4 separate regions of the Homo sapiens genome follow, and regions 2, 3 and 4 are each reported to be linked to region 1. The links are microRNA targets in miRTarBase. Many come from high-throughput screens and were not tested one by one. Region 1 holds a microRNA gene; each other region holds the end of a gene's coding sequence.
What was found. Region 1 holds the annotated microRNA hsa-miR-33a-5p (GUGCAUUGUAGUUGCAUUGCA, at 4,264-4,284, opposite strand). A microRNA usually pairs through its seed, bases 2 to 8, with sites in the 3' UTR of a target mRNA and lowers its output. Matches are read on the target gene's strand: a 7mer-m8 pairs with bases 2 to 8, a 7mer-A1 pairs with bases 2 to 7 and ends in A, and an 8mer does both.

Region 2: the mRNA of FOXP1 is a reported target of hsa-miR-33a-5p. Seed matches in the 3' UTR shown: 7mer-A1 at 4,959-4,965 and 7mer-A1 at 1,815-1,821.
Region 3: the mRNA of VTI1B is a reported target of hsa-miR-33a-5p. Seed matches in the 3' UTR shown: 7mer-m8 at 4,067-4,073.
Region 4: the mRNA of KLF9 is a reported target of hsa-miR-33a-5p. The part of its 3' UTR that is shown has no 7-base or 8-base seed match.

The regions. Positions count from the first base shown.
Region 1 is chr22:41,898,112-41,905,232 of GRCh38, reverse strand. MIR33A (microRNA 33a) reads right to left here and starts at 4,289; the gene lies at 4,221-4,289. It overlaps SREBF2 (sterol regulatory element binding transcription factor 2), which reads right to left. Exons shown (of 19, transcript NM_004599.4): 15 at 6,452-6,584; 16 at 4,735-4,903; 17 at 2,078-2,263; 18 at 259-370.
Region 2 is chr3:70,952,927-70,960,047 of GRCh38, forward strand. It overlaps FOXP1 (forkhead box P1), which reads right to left. Exons shown (of 21, transcript NM_001349338.3): 21 at 1,782-6,465. The coding sequence ends at 6,321. Among named protein-coding and RNA genes, the nearest start is that of FOXP1-AS1, 330 kb to the right of the region's middle.
Region 3 is chr14:67,645,621-67,652,741 of GRCh38, forward strand. VTI1B (vesicle transport through interaction with t-SNAREs 1B) reads right to left here. Exons shown (of 6, transcript NM_006370.3): 6 at 1,465-5,861. The coding sequence ends at 5,765. It overlaps ARG2 (arginase 2), which reads left to right. Exons shown (of 8, transcript NM_001172.4): 4 at 23-182; 5 at 1,024-1,118; 6 at 1,301-1,405; 7 at 2,427-2,563; 8 at 5,095-6,088. The coding sequence ends at 5,300. It also overlaps a transcript of GPHN not described here and the pseudogene COX7A2P1. Among named protein-coding and RNA genes, the nearest start is that of VTI1B, 25 kb to the right of the region's middle.
Region 4 is chr9:70,381,908-70,389,028 of GRCh38, reverse strand. It overlaps KLF9 (KLF transcription factor 9), which reads left to right. Exons shown (of 2, transcript NM_001206.4): 2 at 1,024-4,425. The coding sequence ends at 1,253. Among named protein-coding and RNA genes, the nearest start is that of KLF9-DT, 29 kb to the left of the region's middle.

The DNA.
Region 1 (7,121 bases):
GCTCGAGCTTCTGCTTCTATGCCTGCACCTGTGCTGGGACGCCACCCCAACCCTCCTTCCCTGATCACAGCATGACCCATGACCACCCCAACCCCTGCAACCCACCAAGGGCGGCCTCGGGCTTCTTTCATTCTCAGAGAGGCGAGAGGTGTGCTGGGCACCAATGCCAGATGTGGGAGCTGGGCTGGCCCCTCTTCTCCTCTCTTCCTAGGGCGCAGGGCCTGGCCCAGCCTGTGAGCTGGGGAGGGGTGGACTCACCGTGCTTGGTGCTCTGCGTGGTGCGCCGCCGCAGGCTGTGTTCCAGCAGCTGGTGGGTGCGGGTGGGGCTGGCTCCTGCCATCAGGCGCACGGTGGCTTCATGCAGGAACACCTGGGGAGGTGCCGGGGTGACATCCATCACACCCCTGGTCCCCACCCATCTATGCCCAGGGTAGCTCTCCCTGAGCCATCTCGCCTGCCACCTCATGACATCCCTTCCCACACCACCCTGCCTTGCTCACCCCTGAAAAGCAACCTCTGTTGTCCCGTACTCTGACCCTGAGCCAGGCAGGAAACCTGGCTGAACAGCAGGAGCAGGATGAGAGGAGAGAGAGGCAAAAGGCCTGCTTTTCCCAACTGGTGACAAGAAAGCCCTGGACGCACCTCGTGGGGCTGGTAGACAAGTGCCCTGGGTGAAGCCCCAAGGCCCTGGAGGCTGCCTGCAGTTTGACAAAAGGACAGGTGTGACAGGGACAGAGGGGTGAGGAGGGACAGTTGGGCTGGTACCAGAGAGGTTTGGTATCCTCTTTCCGTATCTTTAGAAAGGAAGAGAGTCTAGAGGTGTGCGGGTAAAGTCTGCAGCGCTTAGGTATGAGCCACTGGTGGGTGAAGGGCAAGGCTGAGGTCTGTCATTTCTTAAAATCTCAAGCTCTTTTTGATGCCTTTATATCTCAGTCTTCAGGGAGGGTCTTCAGTGCTGCCAAGTGGATTCTGGTCCTGGTAGGCAATGGGGAGCCGCTGATGGGCTCTCAGCAGGGAGCAGCAGAATGGAAATGGTATTTAAGAGGAGGCCTTTGGACCAGGCGAGGTGGCTCACACCTGTAATCCCAGCACTTTGGGAGGCCGAGGCAGGAGGACAGCTTGAGGCTAGGGGTTTGAGACCAGCCTGGGCCACATAGCAAGACCCCATCTATTATGAAAAAAAGGCCACTGATGCCAGCCATGCTGTGAGCAGACCAGAGAGCTGACCAGAGTGGGCTCCAGGAGGCAGGGGTGCCGCTCCAGGCCTGGGGTACATGCCCTCTTCTCCACAGTAAGGAATGGCTCTCCGATGATACTGTCTGTTGTGTCTGTCTTGGCTTGCTGCACACAGTGGCCACAGTGCAACCCTGGGTGGGCCCCGCAGCACCTCAGGGTGATGGGTGTGGGGGCTGAATCCCAAGCTCCACGGCAGCAGCCTCGCTCTGAGGCCTTCTTCCAGCCCAGCCCGTGCCCCCTCAATGACACTTGAGTCATCTCACTCAAATTTTTAGAAAAAAATACAGGTACAAATATGTTGAATACATTATATAGCAATACAAATAAACAAAAAAGGAAATAGCTGGAGCCTGGCAAGCCCAGTCATAGAACTTTCCTCCGTGACTTAGTTCAGATCACGTGGCCACTGCCAAGGGGATGTTACCCAGCAGCAGAACCGAAGCCTCTAGCTACTGTGAAAAAGAATGAAAGTCAACGTGGAGCTCGGGACCAGGCCAGGAGCCCTGACTTGCCACCATTGCCCTCAGAGCCCTCCCACCCAGCATGTGCCTGGGGAGGCACAGCTCCCTGCTGGCCCCTGTCTGTGGCAGCAAAGTGTGGCCTGCTCCCTGCTGAGCTCCAGGGCCAGGCATACAGCAGGCACTCAACCAATGTGTGCTGAACACAGGGACACATGGCGCCTAGCCCAGTGTTGGGCACGAGCCAAGCAGGTGCTCGACAGGTCACCAGGCTGACCTCAGAGGGCCAACTCCACAACCACATGCTGGTGCCCATGCTGGGTTCTGGGCTCAGGCCCCACAGGCTCCAATCTGCCCTGCCCCACCAGCCAGCTGGGCCTCACCTTGCGGTATGCTGGGCGGAAGCTGTGTGCCAGCCTGCGCAGGCTGCCCAGGTCCCGTTGGAAGCCCGCCAGTTCAGCGCCTGACGCGTGGTAGGTCTCCCCCACAGCCTGGCTGGCACTGGCCTGTTTTTGCCAGAGCGCTGTCCGTAGCGACAGTAGCAGGTCACAGGTGAGCAGCTGGACCACCTGTGGGGTCAGCCACGAGAGAGGGGAGACAGGTGACTGGCCCATCCCTGAGGCAAGGATCCTAGCACCTACCAGGCCTCTCCCCAGACCAACACTCAGCAGCTCTGGGAGGAAGTGGAGAGCCCCAGAGTCTGGTGAACTCCGCAGGACGTGAGGGAACAGCTCAGGGGAGAACCAGTTCCTTCCATGGCCCCAGGAGGTGGGAGACAAGCCCTCCCCATTCTGCAGGTGAGAAAGCAAGGCTCTGACAGGGACAGCAGCTTGTATAGGGAATACAGCACAGGCAGGTGGCAGGGGCAGAAATAAAACCCTTGTGGGTTGAAGGCGCAGGTTCTTCCACCCCATGGGAGTCCCACCATGGCTGGCTAGGAGGCTGAGATACCCACAAGGTACCAAGGAAAAGCCTGAAGTGGCAGCAGAGCCTGTCGATGGGGCTGGGGGAAGGAGGAGGAGGAGTGGGAGAGGGAGACAGGTGTCTCAGAAGACAGAACCACAGAGTGCCTTAGTGCTTGGGGACTAGGCCTACTGACCCGGCTTTGCCACTTACTAGCTACATGACCCTGGCATAGGACTTAGTCTCTCTGAGCCTCAGTTTCTTCATTCAAAAAAATGTAAATGGCACCATCACAGGGCTGTTGTATCATATGAGAAGGTACTGCATGTGGGCCATGCATACTCTCTGCCTACGACCTATGGGGCTGGGCTGCCCACCCGGCTCGCAGTGGCACACCTGCACGACACCGAGCAGTGAGGAGTCCTTGTTGAGATGGGCCGCAAGCAGCCCTCCGGTCCTGATGAACTCCCTCAGGCTGAGCCTCATCTCACCCAGCCCTGGCTTTCCTCCTTCCCAGGACACTGGGCCTGAGGAAGACCCTGCCCTGTCCCTGCACAAGGCCTTGATCCTTGCCTACACTGTTTTCTGGCTGTTGTGTGCTTCAAGGGGATGTGGAAAAGGATCCCTCTCCTCAAAACCTGGCACTTCTAAGCTGTGCATGCTGCAGAAGCACCTGTGGGCATGGAGGCAGCAGGCCTATGTCTGGATTCTGCCCTCCGAGGGCCATCAGGCTGCATGGCGTTGTCTTCTAGGCTCACTTTCCTACCACAGAGCTGCTACCAAGGAACCCCAGTCCAAAGGGTGGCTGCAAGCCTCTCATTCCCCAAACTGAGCCTGTACTGTTTGGTTCTCTCATGAAGACAAATACGGAAGAGACTAATGGAAAGCCCAAAAGAGAAGGTGAAATGTGGCTCACCATCTGCCTTTGGTCTTGGCAGCCCAGGGCATTTGGGCACCCCCACCAGCTTTTTTTTAAAGATGGAGTCTCGCTCTGTTGCCCAGGCTGGAGTGCAGTGGTGCAATCTCGACTCACTGCAACCTCTACCTCCTGGGTTCAAGTGATTCTTCTGCCTCAGCCTCCTGAGTAGCTGGGATTACAGATACATGCCACCACACCTGGCTTATTTTTGTATTTTTAGTACAAACGGGGTTTCACCATGTTGGTCAGGCTGGTCTCGAACTCCTGACCTCAGGTGATCTGCCCACCTCAGCTTCCCAAAGTGCTGGGATTACAGGTGTGAGCCACCGCGTCCAGCCAGTTTGGGCCTTTTCTGCACATTGCCTGTCCCTGTAGGGGCTGCCACGCTGTCCTGGGTTCATCCCAGTGCCCAGGTCCACTGACAATATCTAGCTTGAAGTACTAGCCTAGCCAGCTAAGACCAAGCCCCAGGGAGTGGCTGAGAATCTGAATCTCCAGGACTCTCCCGGTCCCTCCCACTCTGGAGCTAAGGACATGTTCCCCGTAGACCAGGTGATGCTCCACTTTCAGCTGGGTGCCCTCCTGTTTCCTGGGATGGCTGTGACTTGGGCCCCAACAGTGGCAGCAGTGCCCTCTATCAGGATCCCCTCCCCCACCTGATAGGGCCTTCAGTCAGGGCAGTCTCTCGAGGGCCAGGCAGGCCTCTGTGATGCACTGTGGAAACATTGCATGGGTACCACCAGAACATGCAATGCAACTACAATGCACCACAGCTGCCCGCCAGGAGGTATGCGGCCAGCCAAGGAGGTGCCCAGGGTGGTCTTCAGCTCTGTTTGTGTGCCCGAGGGGGCAGGAACCCACTCCAAGGCTGCCTGCAGAGGCCTGGGAAGTCACGCAAACCGCTGGAGCAAATGCAGGTGAACCCCTGGCCAGCTGGGGTGCACCTGGGCTTACAGAGGCTATGGGCCAGCAGGACCTGGGACTCTGGGAGCCTAAGAAAGGTGCAGGTAGAAACACACTTGCCTCAGAGGCTGAAAAGGGATGAAAAAGGAGTCCACCTAGGCCAATAAGCCGTAACTTTTTTGAAAGGGGGCTGCTGTCCTGGTTTCTCTGTCTTTCGGATGGCCCCACCCGCAGGGTCAGCATGAGGTGAGTGGGAGTGTTCTCGTAAACCAGTGCAGAGCACCTCCCCCAGGGGCCAACTCAGCTCCCACTCACGTGGTTGAGGGCAGGGTCAGAGGTGGCCCCACTGACGTTGAGGCTGCTCCATAGGTGGCCACTGGCCCTCTCGCAATGGCAGAAGGAACTCTGCTGCCCATCTGCTTTCCCAGGGAGTGAGGCATGCATGGCTCTGCAGGCATGGAAGATGGCCTTCACCAGGGGGCTCCTGCAGCAGTGACAGGGAGTCGAGAGGCAGGTCACTATGTGTCACCTGCGTGACAGGCAGAGGGGCCCAAGCCAGTGACTGCCACGCCCCACACTGATATGACATGTGCATCTGTTGACTCCAATGCTGCCACTATGGCACCATGCCACCAGCTCCAGATCTGAAATGCCAGCCCTGAGCTAGGGTTAGCGCCCCACCCTTTAGCACCTTCATTCAATGCTGGAAGTCAGAGACACAGGCTTCACCATCACGTCTGCTGCTAAGAAGCCACCCAAGATAGTCATTCCAACGTGTGCCTCAGTTTCCTTACCTATAAAGTGGCCACAATAAGGTGTTGTACCCGTTCTTTAAGGGACCACCCCCCCAGAGATGTGGTATTAAACTCTCTGGAGATACTTAGTTAGCTTCTTTCTGTAGAGGAGACTGGGAGTGGAAGGGGAGGCTAGGGATGGGGGAGGGTTCTCATAGCATCCTAGTCCCTGAAAAGCAGAGGGACCCAGGGGTAAGTGAATCCAGCAGGCAGCAGTGCCTGCAGGGGTGTCTTGGCTGTCCATGGAAGCTCTGCTGCTCTGGAGCGAGGTGACTTTGGACAACTTACCTGCTGAGTCTCAGTGTCCTCAGGCACATCGACTGGGGGAGACACACATACAGGTGGAATGCTATACCGGGCTGGGTGCTTACCTAGTCAGAGTGCTTACAAATGGGGCTACTTCAATGAAATTAGGGTGTCACATCTACTTCAGGGAACAAAGGACTTCAAGCCTGTGTATACTCACTCTTCTCAGCTCCTTCCTGTGCGCCGGTTAAGGGTCTGCTTGATAGGAAATGCTACAGCCTTGGCTCTAAGGATAGGACCTCGTGGGGCCTTTCTGTCTTGGAGCATTTTACAGTTTCTCTTAGAATACTCAGATCCAATTAGAAACAGCCGGGGAGTCAGCAGGCAGGGCTGCCCATCACTAGTGCCGAATGCCCCCAAGACGCAGACATGAATCTCCAAAGAGGAATGTCAAAAGCTCTCCGGTTATGCCATGTGCTAAAGGCTATTTTAGTTACAGGACAAAGTTGCCAGGGTTGATGGTGGGGGTGGAGGTGGCTGGAAGGAAAGTGGATAAAATGCTAGCACACAGGGGCAAGATGCTCCAGTGCACATGAGTTTTGGGGGCAACAGTGGCCTCTCTGCACTGATTGTGAACCACCAGTGCCTGCCTCCACCACAAAGCTTCTGAAGATGCTGGGGGCCACACTGCTCTCGTCTCTTCTTTTCAGCCTGTGGCGCCATGAAGGCTGCAGGGAGGAGGACCCGGACACAGTGCTGACAGCTGCTGGGACAACTGTCGTGTTGTGCAGAGCAGGACACTTGCACAGAGGACCTGCTGGCCCAACTTGAGTTCTCCATGGTGCCCTCACCCCCGACTTTTCTAGCCGCCCACCTGTCATGCAGTCCTGACCCTTCACCCCAACACGCCCACCCAGTCCAGTTTGCTCCTGCTAACTCAAACAAGATTCCCCTGGAGAGAAGCAAGTGAGTGGCCAAGGAGGGTTACGCACTCTGTCACTTCCAGGGCCTTGGGGATGCGTTCCACTTTGGTAAAATGAGAGCGCACAGCTGCATCGTCTCCCTGGAGCCAGCTGATGGCCACAGTGATTGCAGACGTCCACCACCGACAGATGATGTCTGGACCTAGAGGAGAACAGCACCAAACGCACTCCAGCACCCACAGAAACGAGACCTGTGGCGCTCAGAGGCTGCTACACTTCCTTCCTAGGAGATGGGTAACATCTTTGCCTGCTGGGAACGGGCCAGCAGCCTCTGGGCTCCCACACCCAGGATTCTGGGGGAGGGGAATAGACCAGCACAATCTTGGAAAGTGTTTGGCAATATATATCAAGAGCCTTAAAAATGTTCATTCCTGGTTGGCCGCGGTGGCTCACGCCTGTAATCCCAGCATTTTGGGAGGCTGAGGCAGGTGGATCACCTGAGGTCAGGAGTTTGAGACCAGCCTGGCCAACATGGTGAAACCCCCTCTCTACTAAAAATACACAAAAAAATTAGCTGGGCATGGTGGCGGGTGACTGTAATCCCAGCTACTAGGGAGGCTGAGGCAAGAGAATCGCTTGAACCTCGGTGCGGGCGGAGGTTGCAGTGAGCCGAGATCGTGCCATTGCACTCCAGCCTGGGCAACAAGAGTAAGACTCCGTCTCAAAAAAAATAAAAAAG
Region 2 (7,121 bases), not on the chromosome of region 1:
ATACCATTTAAAAATAAATATAAGTAGGTTATATCTAGAGATGGTTTTCTAATCCAAATATTGTCCCACAGTTAAAACCAGTGTTTTTGTATGTAACTTAATTTCCCTCCAACGTGAATTTTGTCTTAAACCTTTCATCAATTCATTAAATGAAGGTTTGAGACACCCAACTTCACATTATTTGAATAAAGAATACTTTTATTTGATTCAACTACAATGAAGATGAAGGATAAATTGTGATTACTACCCTACACATAAATACGTAATATCATCAAAGACAAAAATCTAATAAGAAAGACTAATTATACTTTGTTTTTATCTTTTTTAGTGGGGAGGGAGAGGTGGTTACTATTATGAAGCTGCCTGTGTTGGTGTGAAATTAGTCTTAAGAGTTTTATGTTCTTTATATAAAGGCGCCTATTTATAAGAAGAGCCAATATTTTGGGTTTGCTGCCTCGTTTATGAGAGTGACAAGCCTGAAATAAATATGTAAAAGAGTGTTCCTGCTTGAGAACAATTCCTGAAATATAAGTTAAAATGTACTATGCCTCAACCAGCAAAATCTTCACTAACATATCGTCATACTTGGTTTAGGTCCTCCAGTTTATTAAAAGAAGTATCTGTACATTTTTAAATTTTACTAATGTATAGGCTGTAAGCAGTATTTAGGTTTAAGCCTGGTAATTACAGGAATTTGAATTAACCCTAAGATTATAGTCTCAGTAGCCAGGTGAGAATTAAAGGTTCAAATGTTTTGCTAATTATTGAGACTAAGGGGTTTCTAGATAGGGCATAATTGTTAATTCAAAGAGGACACTAGTTTGCAACTTAATAGCAAAATCTACTTGTTAAAAACACACACACAGACACACACACACAACTTTGCTAATATGGGCTTTTCAAAACAATGCTGGGAAAGAATGTTCACTTGTATCCTCAGCATCGGTGGGTGTTTTGCAGAATAAAGACTGGGAGGTTAATTTTCAAGTCATCCTTTGCCCTGAATTATGTGCTCTGAATTATATATGTAATGGTTTTATGTTACCACGGTTTGGCCACTTAAAATACTGCTTTCATATTGGCAATTTAATTTTTTATTGAAAGGTGATGCTCAAATTCATTAATCCCTAGAATATATACTATAGAGTAATATTAAAAAGAAACAGCACATTTCCTAAATGCATCTAATTATTTTTTTAAAATCTCAAAATTAAGATGGTTTTTCTGGAATATTTAGGTACTGAAGTTCTGTTTTCTTCAATGAATGCAATTATCTAGCATACTTTTGATAGAATATTTTTATAAAATCATTTGTTCTAATCTAAGCATTTATCATTATATGCAAAAAGATTTCTTGATGAGAATATTATAGACGGTGCATGTTTTTGACATTAGCATTTTATTTGGATGACTAATCTTGCAGATGTGAAATTTTAATGAATTATTCATGAAATTGCTTTCCTCTGAAATTTTAGTTTGCTCTTAATGCTAGTTATTAAACATTTTGTTTTTCTTTATAAAATTTGATGAAAAAAATAAGAGTGTGCTTCCTCAAGAGAAAAGATAACATCTCTTGCTCTTTTTTTTTTACTTCCCAATTCTCTAAGTGGATACTTTCACTTGGAAATCCTGAGGATAAGAGCTTCAGCCTTCCCTGATCATGAAAGCTTTAAGATTGATTTTAATTCTGCATTGGAAGCAGCTGGTGATAAACCTAAGGCATATGCCTAACATACAATATCAGCAGGTCAGAAAGGGAAACAAACTTAGGCTGTGGCAACTTTTACTACCAGCGTGAACAACCAGCATTTTTATTGCATTTGAGAATGCTTATAATGTCAGTAATTAGTACTGACTACACAACATTTTTTTTATTGTCTGTATCCGCAGACATGGAATGATGGAATTACAGTTGATGTCAAGGAATGAGTTTCTTTTATGCCTTATCAAAACAAAACAAAACAAAACAAAAAAATTCTTGTTACTGGCAGCACATATACATGAAGCACCATGCTCACAGTCCGGACTGTATCATCTTCATCAAGGCTTATGGGTAGCAGAGATTGCGTGAGCTACACTGGGCCCAAGAAATGCCTTCAGCATTGTAAATCTGATTTTCAGGATAAAGAAGCAAAACTGACTTTGAAGACATCCAGAATTTCAGGAGGCTATGTCATTAACCAAAAGGTACCAAAAAGATTCAAAATCTGAATAAGCACACTCTTCTTTGTGCCTTTGGAAACGGAGTTCAGCTGGAATATGGAAAAGAGAGGAAATATTTTTTAACTCTATTTTTTTTCATGAGGAAAAAAAAGCTAGTGATTTACAGCCTATCTTGGGTTAAGAATCCAAGGTTTTCTTTACTAGGTCTGACTGGATGCTGGGGATGGTGTTAGAGCTGTCCAAAGGTGGCAGGACTGGTGGTAACTCTTCACGTATGTACATAAGCCTTGATATTCCATTTTGTGGCTGGTCCAAGGGGCAGCCTAACTCATCTTACAAGACGGACTCTAGGGACAGGTAGGTTGGATCCTCATTCCTGACAGTGCATTTGTCTGACACACGGGACTACCTCCCTAATGTATGCTTTTCTTTGAGAAAAAAAAAGTAACAGATTTTCTTTACATCTTGGCACCTTGTAAAGTTTTTTTTTTTTTATACAAAAGTTCAATAGTTTTGACACTCCCCATTGTTAATCACTACTTCACTGATAAACTTGGAAAAGTGTGACCCTGGAATTTCATCATGCAAAATATTTACTGCAGCAGGAGAAAACATTTTTTAAACAACATTTTTTTTTCTTTTCAAATGTATGAACTTGTTTAAGATAGCCAGGAAGGCAGTGGTAGGATAAACACAAGGGATAGGAATGTATCAAAAAACAGATTAACACACACGCACGCGCGCACACACACACACACACACACACAAAACCTGTACAAAATGCTCCAATCAATGAGAACAGAAAAAAGAAATCTTCAACTATGTTACAGTTTAAAAGCAGAAAAAAAAAGTTAGGGAGTTTCTCCCTCCCACATGTCAGGAAATGTCATCCAATATTCTTAAAGCAAGGATAACTAAATAAAATACATGTGCAGCATATTCTGCAATTCCGTTACATACAGTAGTTTTTTTTCCAAAGCTATTTTTTTTTAGTATCGTTAATATAAAGCAGTTGCACAAAAAGCAAAGGTGTTTTGACAAACAGGTGTATGCATTTATTCCTTTTTAGGAACAATATCTAAAAAAAGAACCGCCCTCTGCCCTCCCCCAAAAAAGACAAAGATTCACACAGACACATCGGGATATATGTACAACGTAATAAACCCCATCCTAAAGAAGCAACTGGGATAACCCCCAGGGGATACAGAATCAGAATTGTAAAAATCATAGTGAAGTTTGCTTGCTGTAAAGCCTGAGAATTTTTTTTTCAGTTGGTTCTTCTGCAAGGCTGTGATACCTGCAAAGATATGTAAAATCTAATTTTTCTTTTTTTTTTTTTTTTGCTACAGTCTTTAGACTAAGCATGCAAGACATACGACTAAGTGCAACTGAGTGAAATGTTTTTTTTTTAAATTTTAATCATTCCCTAAAGGTTTGAACTGAGGTATGCGTACTAACAGTTTCTCATGCTGTTATCTTTACTCATGTCTAGCTACACATGCTGAGAATGAACTAATCTACCAGATTTTTATCCTCTTTTGAATACCAAACTAACCAGCAACCACTCAGTTTAGAAGCACAGGGCCCCCTTCCCATGACCCTGTCTGGCTACTGCCTGCACATCATGAAGCTGCCTGGAAAAGTTTTTTTTTTTTTTTTTTTTTTTTTTTTTTTTTTTTTTTTTAAAGTCTTGCGTGACCACAGACTGCCCTTTATACAGAAAGCAGAGTGAAGCTTCAAAAGTAACTGCCAGAGAAGTTTTTGTACCAAGCTTATGAGTGGATGGGAGTGTTACTTTTCTTTAAATGAAAAATGCTGACCAAAGCCTAATCGGAAAAAAAGGAAAAATTAAAAATAAAAACAAACTGAAGGATATATGCCAAGATAAACCAAAATTAATACAGTGATCACAGCACAGTTCTTAAACAAAAGTGGCATACAATCTAAAAATATCTCTTTTTCTAGAAATACTATTATGTAATCTAGTTCAATTATGGAAGCTTTTCTGTCCTGACTCTAAACTGTCTCCTTTATTGGATACTCTAATTGCAGTGGCATACATTCATTTTTTTTTTGAGATGGGACTCCCTTCCTTCTGTAGCTCCTTTAATATTGTGTCCTATTTTTATCTGCAGTAGCCCCATAAAATCTCTTTAAGAGAATGAGTTTTGGTCTCTGTAGAGGTACACAAAAAGAAAAAGGAAAAATAACTACTAGAAAAAAGTAACAACTTTGGTTCCATTATCTACTTGGTCTTCTAAATTTACGATGAAGGAGCAGTTCTCTTTCTCAGGTTGCAATAGCCTATCGCTTGTCATTTGCCTCTAAATTCTTTTGCCTCCTTTGATCAACAATAAGAGGATATTTGGCTTCATCAGATAAAGCATAAAACAGAGAACATAATTTACCTTTGTGTAATATCTTTGGTAATTTTAGAAAAAAGGTACAAAGAAAGAATATAAATTAAGCTTCGAAAGGCTCTCGAACTAAAAAAAACTACAGTCCTATATAAATAAATGACAGGAAAGTGGGTGCAGAGCTGAAGTGTGGAGGGGTTCTAAGGACTGAGGTTGTACTGACCTGTAACCATCACATTTCTGCATACCATGTTTGGGACCCCCCCAAAGCCCAGGGCCTACATGATATCTTCTATGAGTTTTTGTGATACTGGGTTGGTGATATAATATTGCATAACAAACTGCAGTACCAAATTTGCATATTTGAAATTAACACTTTAGCATTTGCTGAACTCAGCCCTCGTTAACTCCCTTAACAAGTTCAATCTGAAATCGAATTTGCATTCAAACAGTTTAATGCCACCAAGTAGGTCTGAACTAATGTATAAACTCAGCGCCGCCGCCGCCACCCCTACTTTCAGGGCAGCTGCTCGGGGAAGCCGGTTTTTTTTTTTGGCCATTTTGCAAACAAAACCAACCCACACCCGTTATCGCAGAGCACCCAAGGCCCATGGCAACTTGGTTCCACAAGGGAGAGCCTTCCAAGGCCATATTGTCAGTCTAATTAATATGAGCTTTTTTTTTTTTTTCAGTGCTGCCTATGTTTCCTTGTGCTGGTAGAATGTGGTGGCATTTATTAATGGTTGCTGCAAAAAAAAAAAAAGAAAAGAAAAGAAAAAAAGAAAATCCGAAACACCCCTCCCCCGAACCACCCCCAATACTGCTGCGTGGAATGAATCGGCATTGTTCCTAGAGTTTGTCTCTCTTTTTTTTTTCTGTCATTCATTCTCTTTCTGGCAGGACGTCACGTCTGTGTGAGAGGGCCTTCATGTGTAGAGTGCAGCATTTGGGACCTTTTTGAAAAAGACCAAAACGGAATGTTTTCTGACTTTAGAGAAACGTGGTGATGTCTGAAGGAAGATGGAATGAGTGACAGAAAGCTACAAACGAGAAATGACATTCAGCTTTGTATAATAAAAACACCTATTAACATTCATCACAAGGTACAGAAAACTTTAAGCCTCCAAGAGGCCATCGGCCCAAATGGAGGCCTGAGGTCAGAACTTAAAATGGTATAGTAGAAGGAAAAAAAAAAAAAAAAAAAGCAATACATTAAAAAGTTTGGGATAATTATTTTTTAACCCCTCCCCCCAATACACACACAAAGGCCTTCCCCATCCCAACTGGAAGCAAAAAAAAAAAAAAAAAAAAAAAAAAAAAAGGAGTAAAGGCAGTGATAATCAACATGCAGTACTGTGCAAATAGGTCGTCCATTGGAATCCTTAAATTCTGGGCAAAGGCTTGGTCTGCAGCTTAGGTGCACAAGCTCTGTCGGGCGTCCTCAGTGTCCAACGTTGGCAGGACTGCAGTTCAAAGTCTGCTGCTAAAAGTGAATCAGTTTAGCAAATTTACAACACTGATGTTGACGGTTAAGAGAGGAAAATCCCAAGTACCAAACAAGTCCATCCAATGCACAGAGTACAAATTCCTTTTTTCAACAAAAAGTAGAAAAATCAAAAATACTCCCAAATGGGGTTCTTGATGGCACTAAGAGTTAACACATTTCAGAGTTGTCAAAACGTAGTGAAAATCCTCCAGACTGTACAACAAATGGAGAACAATTTCACTGCTAACTTTTGACGTGTTTTTTTTTTTTTCCTTTTTCCAATCTTCATTCTCGGGGTTGGCCCGCCCCGATAGTCACTCCATGTCCTCGTTTACTGGTTCATCTTCGTAATCTCTGTCATGGTCAAAATCTGGACTGTGGTTGGCTGTTGTCACTAAGGACAGGGGCCCTTCAGCTTCCTCTGGATCGAGGGGCTCTTCTTTGACGTGTACAGGATGCCTGGAAAAAATATGCAGAGGTTCAGTGAGGGTACTTCCCAGCCCATTGCAGCTCAGGTGCACTGAAAAGTTTGGGGCAACAGAAAAGCCGCACTCTAGAACTAGAACTCTGTCCAGTATTGTTACCATTAGCCACACGTGGCTCTTTAAATTGAAATGAACGAAATCTTACTACATTTAATATTCAGTTTCTGAGTTGTGCTAGCCACATTTATGTTCAAAGGCCCCATGTGACTAGCGGTTAATTCTGGCCAGCACAGAGACAGACGGAACATTTGCATCACTGCGTAAAGTTCTCTTGGGTAGTGATGCTCTGAATCACTAGTCTCTGGACTGGTGTGGGCCTCTCCTCCCTGGTGGCATTTCTCATACTTTAACACACGCTGCAGTCACCTGTGGGCCTTGTTGAAATGCAGTGTGTGATTCAGGTCTGGGGTGGGGCCTGAGACTCTGCATCTCTAACAAGCCCCCAAGTGATGCCGGTGGTCCTAGAACCACACTGAGTACCAGATAACAGGTCCCGTAGTGGCATCCTGGGTGGATGAATACCCATCTTCAAATAATTACACGAAATAAGAATCTGTAATGCAACGGCAGTTTGTGGGGACCACTGAGCAGAGGAGGCTGGGCTAATCATGGCTTGCTGTGTGTTCTGCT
Region 3 (7,121 bases), not on the chromosome of region 1:
AGATTATACTTGTTCTTTGCAGCCTGGCAATCGGTACCATTAGTGGCCATGCCCGACACTGCCCAGACCTTTGTGTTGTCTGGGTTGATGCCCATGCTGACATCAACACACCCCTTACCACTTCATCAGGAAATCTCCATGGACAGCCAGTTTCATTTCTCCTCAGAGAACTACAGGATAAGGTCAGTGGGCCAAAACGAAAAGAAAGGTGAATGGCTTGCAGGGTTTTGCTGGAGTTGGTCTAGTTCAGTTAAGATTTTGGTGAAGGGTGGGTTGAGTGTGGATTACCACTCCTTCATTTGTTCATCACTATTATGGACCAGGCAGTCTGCCAGATGCTAGGGGTATAAAGACTAGACATAGTCTCTGTTCTTTGTAAGAAAGCAAGGAGGGGGTAGTAACAATAGCGACTGATATACCCACAGCCTGAGGACTTCTTGGTTAGAGGCTCCCAGGCCATACTCTCAGACACACTGATCTAGAAGACAAATAAAACCATGACCTCTGGGTAATATTTTCCTGAGCAGTTCAGAATATATGGGAGTCCATGTTAGGCACAGACTAGAATCTGTATATCCCTCCCCTCAGTGAGGGACCAAGTCAAACCAGGACACTACAAAGATTATTCATTGGGCGGAAGTCCTGTGTCGGCTGTTGGCAACTTGAGATGGCAACCAGGTTATGCTTCAAGAACCAATCTGTAAACAAGTCAGTAATGTGCAATGGGATAGAAAAGGGCTAATCAGCAGTATTCCTGCTACTAGGTAAGTTAATGAGAAACCAAGACAACCTTAGAGATTTTATTCGTCTTGAGAAAGCAATACTGTGTTCCTCAGCTGCCCTTCTGAAACATTTCCACCTTGTGTCACTTCTCCTTCCCAGATCAAGTGTGTCCTGTGTTGCTCTAAACTTACCCTGTGGGTGGCAGAAGAAAGCAGATTGCATACCCACGGACGCACATGATAATGATCTTGGTGAGAACAAGAATTCTTGATTAATCCTGTCCATTTCTCCCTTTCATAGGTACCACAACTCCCAGGATTTTCCTGGATCAAACCTTGTATCTCTTCTGCAAGTATTGTGTATATTGGTCTGAGAGACGTGGACCCTCCTGAACAGTAAGTTGATGCATTTGGCTGAAGTTTAGGGCCTGTCCTAGCCAATTATGTTCTATTTGAAAGGCTGATGCTTAACTTGGTCTATTGCAGGTCACTACAACAAACCCACCCTCTCCCCCAAATACATATTTGTTAAAAATGCTCTTTAAACTAAGGACTCCTCCCTTTATATCTCATCACAGTTTTATTTTAAAGAACTATGATATCCAGTATTTTTCCATGAGAGATATTGATCGACTTGGTATCCAGAAGGTCATGGAACGAACATTTGATCTGCTGATTGGCAAGTAAGTAACTATAACTGATGTCAGGGCAAACCCCCAATGGGCAACACACTTTTAGCCTGTTTCTTGAGGACAGCAGCTTTACTTTTAAAATACAAAGCAAAAACATACACATAATTTTAAATAGTTCAGAAAGGCAAAATTTGAAACACAGGTCATATTCTTCCTCTGGGGTTTTTGGGAGGAGGTTTCCTCTAAATCATTGCCTAGATCTTCTGTCTCATGAATTTTTCTTTATCTCCATCTTTAATGCTTATCTTCTGAGATGACAAGCATTTATTGTTTCAACTGTCCCATTCTTCCCAGCCTCACGATTGTTTCATCTGAGTTTTATATTAAGCAAATCTTGGCAGTGTAGAAAGATGGCAGATGAATACTAATCAAATGGTAATTTTAAGAGCATTTTCCCAATACCAAGTCTTTACTTCTGGGTGATTAATGTCAGAATTGTTATCTGGTAGTATGTCATTTCATAAGCTGTTAAGAAACTTAGTTGTTAGCTTCAGCCTTTGGACACTGGGGCTATAATGAAGTTAGAAATGGAAGATGTTAAAACTGCAGACCTAAAATTAGAGTTCACTTCAGCTGCTGTTACGTTCAGAGAATAAGAGCAACCATAACTTACATCAAGCCAATTTAAATTAGACTAATTTAAATTGTCTAATTAAATTGTCTCTAGATGAGAGCCCAATCTCATCTAGAAGTGAAGAAATCTCTCTATTGACAGTTATTAGTATAAGAGGTTCTAATACCCAGTGTAAGGCAGAAATATACATTGGAGTTAGTCTGTCTGAGGTATGCAGAACAAATGGCAGTATCATGAAGTGGTATGTAGGAAGTTAATATTGCCAATCTCAGTAACTTCCAAGAATAGGAAGCCTGGAAATGTATTAACAGCTTTATTAACAAAGTACTAGGACTAATAGCAACAAAATCAAGGAGTTGCAACCATAAGAAGGATGAGTGTCCAAGGACAACCAGTTAAGTATTATTTTAAGTATTATTTTATCCTCTTCCTTTTTAGGAGACAAAGACCAATCCATTTGAGTTTTGATATTGATGCATTTGACCCTACACTGGCTCCAGCCACAGGAACTCCTGTTGTCGGGGGACTAACCTATCGAGAAGGCATGTATATTGCTGAGGAAATACACAATACAGGTATGTAGCAACCAGGTCTGCAGCCTGTTAACTACATAGGTAAATATGCTAGAGTCTCTTGCCTGCAAAGGATCTTTTCTGCTATTCCACATCATTGCAGAGTTTGTTTTTGCTTAAACTTTTGTAGCTAAAAATTATATGGCCATGCTAATAAAAAGGATATAGTCCTTTAGAGTCATGCTTGGACATGGCTCTTACCAAATTACACTAAGGTAATAATGAGTAAAAAATTGTATATTTAAACAATTAAATACAAGAATAAATTGTCAAACTGATGCAGTTCTTTGAGTTATCTAAAGGCAGATTAAGATAAGAAGGCAAGATAAGATAAGAGTGCAAGGCTGTAATTTGCACTCTAAGAGATTGGTTCATTGGGAGTTGTGAATTTGGAGCTAAAGCTGATCTCTTGAAGAAATCTGCAAACTGGACAATATCTTGGGTCCTTTATGTAGGGTAGGTCTTGTACTAGAGCCTGAAAGGATTTCTAATAAGGGGGATACAGTTAGATGAGAATGGCTGATGGAAAGAGTACTAAGATGAATTCTACGTTATCAAGACTGGCTACTTTTCCAAAACTCATACTTGTTTGCAAACAGTTTCCATTTCTGTCAGAAAGCTTCTGGTTTTAAAGCTACTTCAAATGACCTTTCATTCCAAAATTTAAAGAACTACCAAATCATACTGCTTCAGTAACCATCTGATGGAACTAGGGTATAGATAGAGACCCCAGATTGAAAGGTTCAGGGCTATAGAGAACCCTTGACTAGCTGGGATAGAAACTCACATTGAGAAATGGTCTCCTTAGCGCCACAGCCTGCCAGAACCTTAGGCAGTACAAAAAGGCAGGCAGTACTGGTCTAATTCTCAGATCTGCAATCTTAGATGTTGCCAGTGGTCCTTAGGTTATTGGCCAGAGAACTTGGGGGTTCAATTCTCTGCTTTGCTTCCTAAAAACACCACTTAGAGCAGGGGTTAATAACCTCTAGCACTTATATATGGCATGGCTTGTCTCTTTGTTCCTATGCTACAATATTTTACTCCAAAAGACACTCATGGGGCTAGGCACAGTGGTTCATACCTATAATCCCAGTACTCTGGGAGGCCAAGGCAAGAGGATTACTTGACCCCAGGGGTTCAAGACCAGCGTGGGCAACATAGTGTGACCCCGTTTCTACAAAAAATAATTAGCCAGGTGTCCCAACTACTTGGGAGGTTGAGGCTGCAGTGAGCCATGATTGTGCCACTGCACTGTTATAATGCTGTCAACTAGATACATAAAGCAGTTTGCTTAATTTATAGGGTGGCAATAGTCTGGAAACATAAGTCATGTATATATTTCTAATAGTGCAAACTTTGATGACCACTTCTGGGATATGCTAAAGGTGCAGGTTTAGTCAGTGGAAATCAGAGACAAATCAGGAACACAGGTCCATGTGCAGGAAATGATGGAAATGCTACAGTAATACACCTGTTGGTTGCAGTTTGGCACTGTACACTCAACTATGCATTGCTAATAAGGGAAGATGCTGAACGGACATGATGGCATTCAGCACATCATGTACTATAGTGTAATATCAATAAACCATTAGGTACATTTGCCTGTGTTTCCAGACTTTATGGCCACCCTAAATATTCTTAGATACTTGTATTCCTGAATACTAGCTTGTTCAGATCACCCTTCATCCAGAATAACCAACTAAAAAGTTAAATTCTATAGAGAAGTGAGGCATTTAGAGGGGTGAGCATAGTAGCAGGTCTGGATAGGTTCTTCTGGTTTAAGCTTCCCTTCCACTTGCTCCAGGCCAAAGGAACACTACCGAGAACTTTGACACAAGTTCTCAAACCTTAACAGAAGGTAACTGAAGTCCAGATAAAATAATTAACATATGGCTGAATTTTCTCTTGATCAAGTACAAGACACTGGGTCAGTCTGCTGGGAGACAAAAAGATGTTGTTAGATGTGGAACCTGCCTCCAGAGCTCAGGCCTGCAGGGGTGAGAATGAAGTTTGCAGTAATAACTACATTTCAGGGCATATGGTGTGGTGCTCTAACAGATACAGATAACACATTAGAGTTCAAAAGTGGGAATGCAGTTTGGCTAGTGCAAGTGGCAGATTTCCTCTGCCTTCATACTTGATTCATTTCCAGGCAGGCATCTGGAAGGTTCCTAGTCATACTGGAGGTGGCATACATTTTGCCAACAAGCAGGATGAAAACCTCCCCCACCCAACACCAAGCCTTTTCCTTTTCCAGAACGCCTGACAATTATGCCTGTTATGTTAGTTGAACAGGGATGGTTTATTTCATTATCTTAAAAGGTTTCTTTTAATCTACTATAGCACAACAGTGTTTTAACTTAAATTCATGGCCAAGAGGATGAGGTGCAAGGGGCTTCCTAAAAATAGGTATTTTCTACTATAAAATGGACTCTTGTTTTTACTTTGGCTTGTTCTCCCTGTCCCAGTGGGATGACCCTCACTGAGAGTAGCAGCAAGGGAACCTGAGGTTTTGTCACACTTTGTTCTTCCAGGGTTGCTATCAGCACTGGATCTTGTTGAAGTCAATCCTCAGTTGGCCACCTCAGAGGAAGAGGCGAAGACTACAGCTAACCTGGCAGTAGATGTGATTGCTTCAAGCTTTGGTCAGACAAGAGAAGGAGGGCATATTGTCTATGACCAACTTCCTACTCCCAGTTCACCAGATGAATCAGAAAATCAAGCACGTGTGAGAATTTAGGAGACACTGTGCACTGACATGTTTCACAACAGGCATTCCAGAATTATGAGGCATTGAGGGGATAGATGAATACTAAATGGTTGTCTGGGTCAATACTGCCTTAATGAGAACATTTACACATTCTCACAATTGTAAAGTTTCCCCTCTATTTTGGTGACCAATACTACTGTAAATGTATTTGGTTTTTTGCAGTTCACAGGGTATTAATATGCTACAGTACTATGTAAATTTAAAGAAGTCATAAACAGCATTTATTACCTTGGTATATCATACTGGTCTTGTTGCTGTTGTTCCTTCACATTTAAGTGGTTTTTCATCTTTCCTCCCTCCTCCCACAGCCTGGCTATACAGTGCATCCTTGAACTGTCAGCCCACAGCAGCAATATGCTTATTCTATCCACATCCCTAACATCATGCATTCACAAGGTCAAAGTTCTGGTCCACAAACCCTTCCCTATAGAAGTTCAATGGCTGCGAAAGAATTTGTAGTAAACCAGGCCTCCCAGGATGGCGAGCTCCAGTAAGATGATAATGGAAAGCAGCAGCTTGTTGGTTGTCACTCTACAAAGAGAAGCAAAGTGGGGAGTAGTCAGAAGTTTGGATAACCTTCCTTCTAAACATTTTGGGGTTAGACCTGGGACCACGGCTGGATACTCTGAGGCTGTATGTTTGATCACACAGCCACTTAGCAGGAAGTACTCATAAGGTTCTTTAGCTGTCACTTAGGGATAACACTGTCTACCTCACAGAAATGTTAAACTGAGACAATAAAAACCAAAGCATAAAAATGGATTCTGAAATGTTGTTCAAATAGTAGTTACTTCCTTTAAAAATAGCTTTTCTAGAAAGAAGGGTTAGCTAGAAAAAGTAATCAAATAGACATCCAGCTCAGGATGGGTCCTGCCCTAGGATAAGTAACTAGAAGCCTGGGTAATACCTTTCAATCCCTTGTAAACTTCTTCCCTCTGCCCTATTTTTCCCTTTGCTCTCCTATCAACCCAAATGGGTATGTTATAAAGGTAGTATAGGAGCTTAAAAATTTTCCTATCTGTTGTTTACATAAAGAATCCAACCTCTGGTTCTCATGTTCACTCTAGGTTTCTCCCTAGTCCACAAGGAATTTATCACTGTAGGAAAATCCCACCCCTCCTGCTAGTTCCATGAGTGGGTTGTAGTTTTGTTTCATGCTAGGCCACCTGTGCCCAAGGTCACGTACAATACCCTCTTACCCCCAACTTCAACCTCAGTGGCAGTATTTCTGCCCTGGATTTGTTGCTGTTAGCACTCGAGGATTTTGTTTTTTATTTTTGGTAAAGACTACTGTATTGGTGGCAGTTAGTACAATTCAAATATTGTCTTCAAAGAAGGACTTATTTATTCTCTATGGACTAGGAGTCCATACAGAGCTGAATGAAACTGAATCAAGTCACTGCTGTGATGACTGAAGTCAATCCCATTTCTTGGGAAATGAAACCACAGCCAGCTGATGCATGGCATATGCTGTTTCACTAACTGAGAACCATGGTGGCTCTATACAGGAGGTCATCAGCTCTACCACCCTTTAGATGCACTGGAATTCCATTCTTCTCCTGAAACAGCTTGTGTTTTCTGGACCTTTATTTTCAAAATGCCTGCATGAAGCAATGCTCATGGTCCTCTGGGCAACCTGACAGTGCCAGCAGATTCTGCAGCATCTTGACTCAGTTACTGCCCAAGAACCCTGACAACTCCACAAGGGTTTTATTTTTAAAAGTCTACTTCTTCCCTACAATATAGAACTTCCAGAAAAGGAGCTGACTCCCATGAAGGGCAAGCAGAGCC
Region 4 (7,121 bases), not on the chromosome of region 1:
GCTGGGACTACAGGCGCACGCCACCACACCCAGCTAATTTTTGTATTTTTAGTAGAGGTGGGGTTTCACCATGTTGGTCAGGCTGGTCTCTTAACTCCTGACCTCAGGTGATCTGCCCGCCTCAGCCTCCCAAAGTGCTGGGATTACAGGCGTGAGGGATTACACACCTGGCACAAACTTACTTCTAGTGTTAAGACAATATGACTTAAAGTATGGCCTTTGCAGGAAGGCAGATTTTATATCAATAAAAGATGTGACAGAGATGCTCAGGAACAACCAGATGCTGAGTGGCCCCTGCACTCAGGAGCTCAGGGAGAAATGCTCGTTCCAGGTAGGAGGCTGGTTGGACCCAATGCCAATTCTTTTCCATCCTACAACACCAAGAAATTTAGCAAAAAGGCTCAGCTTTTTTACTCTTGAAAGAATTTATGAAACCAGCAATTGTGTGGAATAAAACAGAAAAAATACTTTCCAGGGGACCCATAGGGTACCAAATGGCAAGCTCATTTGCTTAGAGATGTTAGCAACTTTCTCATTGTATTAGTTTGGGCTGCCATAACACACAACCACAGACTGGGTGGCTGAAACAACAGAACTTTATTTCCTCACAGTTCTGGAGACTGGGAGTCCAAGGTAGAGGCAGGGGACGGGTTCGTTTCATTGGAGGCCTCTCTCCTTGGCTTGTAGATGGTGGCTTCATCCCTGTCTTCCCAAGGTCTTCCCTAGTCTTCACATGTCTGTGTCCTCATCTCCTCTTATAAAGACACCAGTCGTGGATTAAGGCCTGCCCTCATGAACTTGTTTAACATCAGTTGCCTCTTTAAAGGCCTTAACTTCAAATGCAGTCATTTTCTGTGGTGCTGGGGGTTAAGGCTTCAACATAGGGATTTTGGGGAGGGGGACACATAATAATCATCTCCGAGGGATTTATCCTTTGAGTCGTAGGGACTATTGACCATGACCGCCCTTCGGAATTTTTTTCATGTTCTTTGAGCTGTATCCTTTCTGATTCCTTTCTCTTAGGTGAACGGCCCTTTCCCTGCACGTGGCCAGACTGCCTTAAAAAGTTCTCCCGCTCAGACGAGCTGACCCGCCACTACCGGACCCACACTGGGGAAAAGCAGTTCCGCTGTCCGCTGTGTGAGAAGCGCTTCATGAGGAGTGACCACCTCACAAAGCACGCCCGGCGGCACACCGAGTTCCACCCCAGCATGATCAAGCGATCGAAAAAGGCGCTGGCCAACGCTTTGTGAGGTGCTGCCCGTGGAAGCCAGGGAGGGATGGACCCCGAAAGGAGAAAAGTACTCCCAGGAAACAGACGCGTGAAAACTGAGCCCCAGAAGAGGCACACTTGACGGCACAGGAAGTCACTGCTCTTTGGTCAATATTCTGATTTTCCTCTCCCTGCATTGTTTTTAAAAAGCACATTGTAGCCTAAGATCAAAGTCAACAACACTCGGTCCCCTTGAAGAGGCAACTCTCTGAACCCGTCTCTGACTGTTGGAGGGAAGGCAAATGCTTTTGGGTTTTTTGGTTTTTGTTTTTGTTTTTTTTTCTCCTTTTATTTTTTTGCGGGGGAGGGTAGGGAGTGGGTGGGGGGGAGGGGGGTAAGGCCAAGACTGGGGTAGAATTTTAAAGATTCAACACTGGTGTACATATGTCCGCTGGGTGAGTTGACCTGTGGCCTCGCACAGTGATTCTGGGCCCTTTATGCTTGCTGTCTCTCAGAATTGTTTTCTTACCTTTTAATGTAATGACGAGTGTGCTTCAGTTTGTTTAGCAAAACCACTCTCTTGAATCACGTTAACTTTTGAGATTAAAAAAAAAAACGCCATAGCACAGCTGTCTTTATGCAAGCAAGAGCACATCTACTCCAGCATGATCTGTCATCTAAAGACTTGAAAACAAAAAACAGTTACTTATAGTCAATGGGTAAGCAGAGTCTGAATTTATACTAATCAAGACAAACCTTTGAAAGGTTACACTAAGTACAGAACTTTTAAACCTTGCTTTGTATGAGTTGTACTTTTTGAACATAAGCTGCACTTTTATTTTCTAATGCAGAGGATGAATAAGTTAAATACATGCTTTGAGGATAGAAGCAGATGTTCTGTTTGGCACCACGTTATAATCTGCTTATTTTACAATATACACGTTTCCCTAAGAAATCATGGCAGAGATGTGAGGGCAGAATATACACAACAGATGCTGAAGGAGAAGGAGGGTAGTGTTTTGCAAAAGAAAAAGAAAAGAACCAACAGAATTTTAACTCTATTAACTTTTCCAAATTTTCCTATGCTTTTAGTTAACATCATTATTGTATCCTAATGCCACTAGGGGAGAGAGCTTTTGACTCTGTTGGGTTTTATTTGAATGTGTGCATAACAGTAATGAGATCTGGAAACACCTATTTTTTGGGGAAAAAGGTTTGTTGGTCTCCTTCCTGTGTTCCTACAAAACTCCCACTCTCAGGTGCAAGAGTTATGTAGAAGGAAAGGGAGCTGAAATAGGAACAGAAAAATCAACCCCTATAACTAGTGAACACCAAGGGAAAATACCACAATGATTTCAGAGGAGACTCTGCAAAATCGTCCCTTGTGGAGAATGCAGGCAACATGGAATACTAGGAATGAAATCACATCACTGTATCTTTTACATCAATAGCCTCACCACTAATATATCTTGTATCTAGGTGTCTATAATGGCTGAAACCACTACATCCATCTATGCCATTTACCTGAAAACTTAACTGTGGCCTTTATGAGGCCAGAAAAGTGAACTGAGTTTTCGTAGTTAAGACCTCAAATGAGGGGAGTCAGCAGTGATCATGGGGGAAATGTTTACATTTTTTTTTTCTTCAGAAGTAACGCTTTCTGATGATTTTATCTGATATTTAAAACAGGGAGCTATGGTGCACTCTAGTTTATACTTGCGCTCTGAAATGTGTAAACATAGGGTGCCTACCTATTTCACCTGACCCATACTCGTTTCTGATTCAGAATCAGTGTGGGCTCCTGCAGTGGGCGCGGGTCACGGCTGACTCCAACTTCCAATACAACAGCCATCACTAGCACAGTGTTTTTTTGTTTAACCAACGTAGTTGTATTAGTAGTTCTATAAAGAGAACTGCTTTTAACATTAGGGACTGGGAGCAGTCCATGGGATAAAAAGGAAAGTGTTTTCTCACGAGAAAACATGTCAGGAAAAATAAAGAACACTTTCTACCTCTGTTTCAGATTTTTGAAACACTTATTTTAAACCAAATTTTAATTTCTGTGTCCAAAATAAGTTTTAAGGACATCTGTTCTTCCATACGAAATAGGTTAGGCTGCCTATTTCTCACTGAGCTCATGGAATGGTTCTGCTTATGATACTCTGCACGCTGCCTTTTAGTGAGTGAGGAGTTTGGGGTTGCCTAGCAACTTGCTAACTTGTAAAAAGTCATCTTTCCCTCACAGAAAGAAACGAAAGAAAGCAAAGCAAAGTCAGTGAAAGACAATCTTTATAGTTTCAGGAGTAAATCTAAATGTGGCTTTTGTCAAGCACTTAGATGGATATAAATGCAGCAACTTGTTTTAAAAAAATGCACAATTTACTTCCCAAAAAAGTTGTTACTTGCCTTTTCAAGTTGTTGACAAACACACATTTGATATTCTCTTATATGTTATAGTAATGTAACGTATAAACTCAAGCCTTTTTATTCTTTGTGATTAAATCCTGTTTTAAAATGTCACAAAACAGGAACCAGCATTCTAATTAGATTTACTATATCAAGATATGGTTCAAATAGGACTACTAGAGTTCATTGAACACTAAAACTATGAAACAATTACTTTTTATATTAAAAAGACCATGGATTTAACTTATGAAAATCCAAATGCAGGATAGTAATTTTTGTTTACTTTTTTAACCAAACTGAATTTTTGAAAGACTATTGCAGGTGTTTAAAAAGAAAGAAAAGTTGTTTTATCTAATACTGTAAGTAGTTGTCATATTCTGGAAAATTTAATAGTTTTAGAGTTAAGATATCTCCTCTCTTTGGTTAGGGAAGAAGAAAGCCCTTCACCATTGTGGAATGATGCCCTGGCTTTAAGGTTTAGCTCCACATCATGCTTCTCTTGAGAATTCTATTTGGTAGTTACAATTACAGAAACTGATTAGTTTGTCAGTTTGCAGATAGATTTAGCACAGTACTCATCACTCGGATAGATTGAGATGTTCTTTCACATCAGATGATCTGTAACACTGTAAGATACTGATCTTTACAACTGTTTAATCAGTTTTATTTTTGTACAGTATTAGTGACCTAAGTTATTTTGCTGTCCCGTTTTTGTAAATCAAATGAAATTATAAAAGAGGATTCTGACAGTAGGTATTTTGTACATATGTATATATGTTGTCCAAATAAAAATAATAAATGATAAAGACTGAATTGTTCTAGCCATTATGTGTTGTAAAAGGGGGCTATTTCACCATAATGAAAGTTACTTCTTTAACCTGTGTTCGCAGGATTTTGGGATGAGTGCAAAGATGATTTTACCCTGTACCTTTCAACACATGCAATAGTTATATAGACTTGTGTGTATTTACTATTCACAGACCTCTGAGGAAGTAGATGCAATAGAGGTCACTTGAAACCATTGTGTTATGCTGGAGGGGAATATTTATATTTTGGGAGATAAATCACTTTAAGAGGCTTTTAGAGCTCATAACTGTGCAGGGTGTACTAGGAACTGGTCAGAGAAAGTTGTAAGCTCAGATTGTGCTCTTGAGATACGATATTAATAAGAACACACAAGTTGAGGTTTCATTGGCTCAACAGTAGAAACATAACACCAAGCAAAGACAAGCATCAAAGTGTGTGTGTGTGTGTGTGTGTGTGTGAGATTTATGCAGACATGTACTAGCTATTATGTATTAATTAAGCTTTTATTGTAAACTACTCATGGCGTTGGGTGTTTAGGTTTTTCACATTTAATCCTTACAGCAGCTCAGTACAGTAGATAATTATTATTATGTACATATTTCTGATGAGGAAATTGAGGATTGGATAACTTGCCAAGAGGCACATCTAATAAGTGGCACAGACAGTGTTTAAATTTGGATCTGCTGAATCCAACCCTGCATCTTTGTATGCCTGCATCACAGCAGCAAGGGATTTACTGGAGTGTACCATTCATTTGACCCATTTTATTGAGCACACCTATTCATGCCAGGCACTGTTGTCACTGTGGATACAAAGGTGAAAAAATAGACAAGGACCCTATGTTCAGGGAGTTTCTGTTAGTAGAGGGAAATAAATAGTAAACAGATTATCCATGTACTCTCAGATAGGGATAAGCATAGTGGCGAGAATAGAATAGGGTGATGTGATTGTGACTTGGAGGGTGGGGAGAGGCTACTACAGATTGAGGAGGCAGGGAAGGACTCCCTGAGGGTCTTCACATTTAAGCTGGGACCTAGATGACAAGAAGGAACTAGCCTCAGAAAATGTGTAGGGAGTGTGGAAGGAGTTTGGCAGGAATGTGACCAGCGTTTGGAGGAACAGGATAACAGTGGGGTGGCTGGAATATAAACTGGACAAGAAGGGAAGGGAAGTGCTGGGGTGGTTGTCAGGGCCCAGTTCACAAGGGCCACGTATTGCAGGTTGTAAAACGGTGTTTGATTTTGATTCTAAGGGGAGGGGCAATCTGTTGGAAGCTTTAAAGCAGAAGAATGCTACGATCCCACTTGTATTTCAGCAAGCTCTTTATGAGTGCCAGGGAAAATGGATTTTAGAGGGACAAGAGTGGAAGCTGGGAGACTAGCCAGGAGATTTCTATTTGTCCAGGCAAAAGATGATGGTTTTCCAGACCCGAAGGTTAGCAGTGGAAAGAAGTGAATAGTTTCAAGAAATACATCAGAGGCAGAGTCATTTGGACTTGGTGATGTTAGGATGTCGGGGGTAAGGCATAAAAAAGTCCGGTAATGACCCTCAAGTCTATGGCCTGAGCAACAGGTAGATGTTACTGCAGAGTGGTGAGGATGGAGGAAAGGGGGAAAGAAGGGGGTGGATGAGGGAAAGGGCATGGGTTCATCTTTGGACATGTTGAGGTTGCAGTGCCTGTCAACTGGGAATGTCAAGAGAACGATTGTATGTACTAGTTCAGATCTCAAAAGAAGTGGACTGGACTGGAAATTTGGATGTCATCGTCATATTTAACAGTAACTGGAGCCAAAGAAGTGGATGAGATCACCTGGGAGAAGAAGTGGTTACAGCCTAGAACCAAAGAGGAGGAGAAGGAGGAGGCAGAAAGGTAGCTCAGGAAATAACAGGACAAACAAAACCCAGAAAATTGCAGGGCTGTTGAGTAAGGTGGGGGGTGGGCCAGTCAACTGTGCTGAATGGCATTGAGGAGTATAGTAAGACCAGTGCTGAAAAGCGTCCCCTGAATTTAGGAATCTGAGGTTATTGGTGACTGATTAGAGCCATTTTATTAGAATGGCGGAAATAAACAGCTGGTTAGGGAGGGGGAGGAGTAATCGTGAGGTGAAAATTATAAATAGGAAGTATAGTCAATTCTTACATAGTTTGCAGAAAACAAAAGCAGACTTATTTATATACAGCAAAAGCCAGGAAAAAGAGGAGGCACAAGAAAAAGACAAAATAAGACGAAGGAAAATAGAATGCACATGCCACTTAAACCCCCTACTAAAAGTTAGAATCTCAATTTGGATCAAAAGCAAAGTCACAGCTCCTCAAGAGGCTGAGGCAGGAGGATGGCTTGAGTCCAGGAGTTCAAGGCTGCAATGAGCTGCGATCACGCACTGCACTCCAGCCTGAGTGACAGAGAAAGACACTGTCTCTAAAAAAAGATTGCATTTTTTATCACTAGGCAATAAAGTGAGCAATTAATAACAAAAGGATAATTTTGAAAGACTAAAAAAGTAGAGATTGAAATACTGTCTTAAAATAATTTTTAGATCAAAACAGAAAATACAAATTATAATCTGTTTAAAACAATAGAAAAAGCAGTATATCCATAATATACCCTATACCCTAAAGCAGTACTTACAGAAAAATTCAGAGCCTCATATGCTTCATTATCATCTATGAAAAAATAAAAATAAGCCAAGCGATC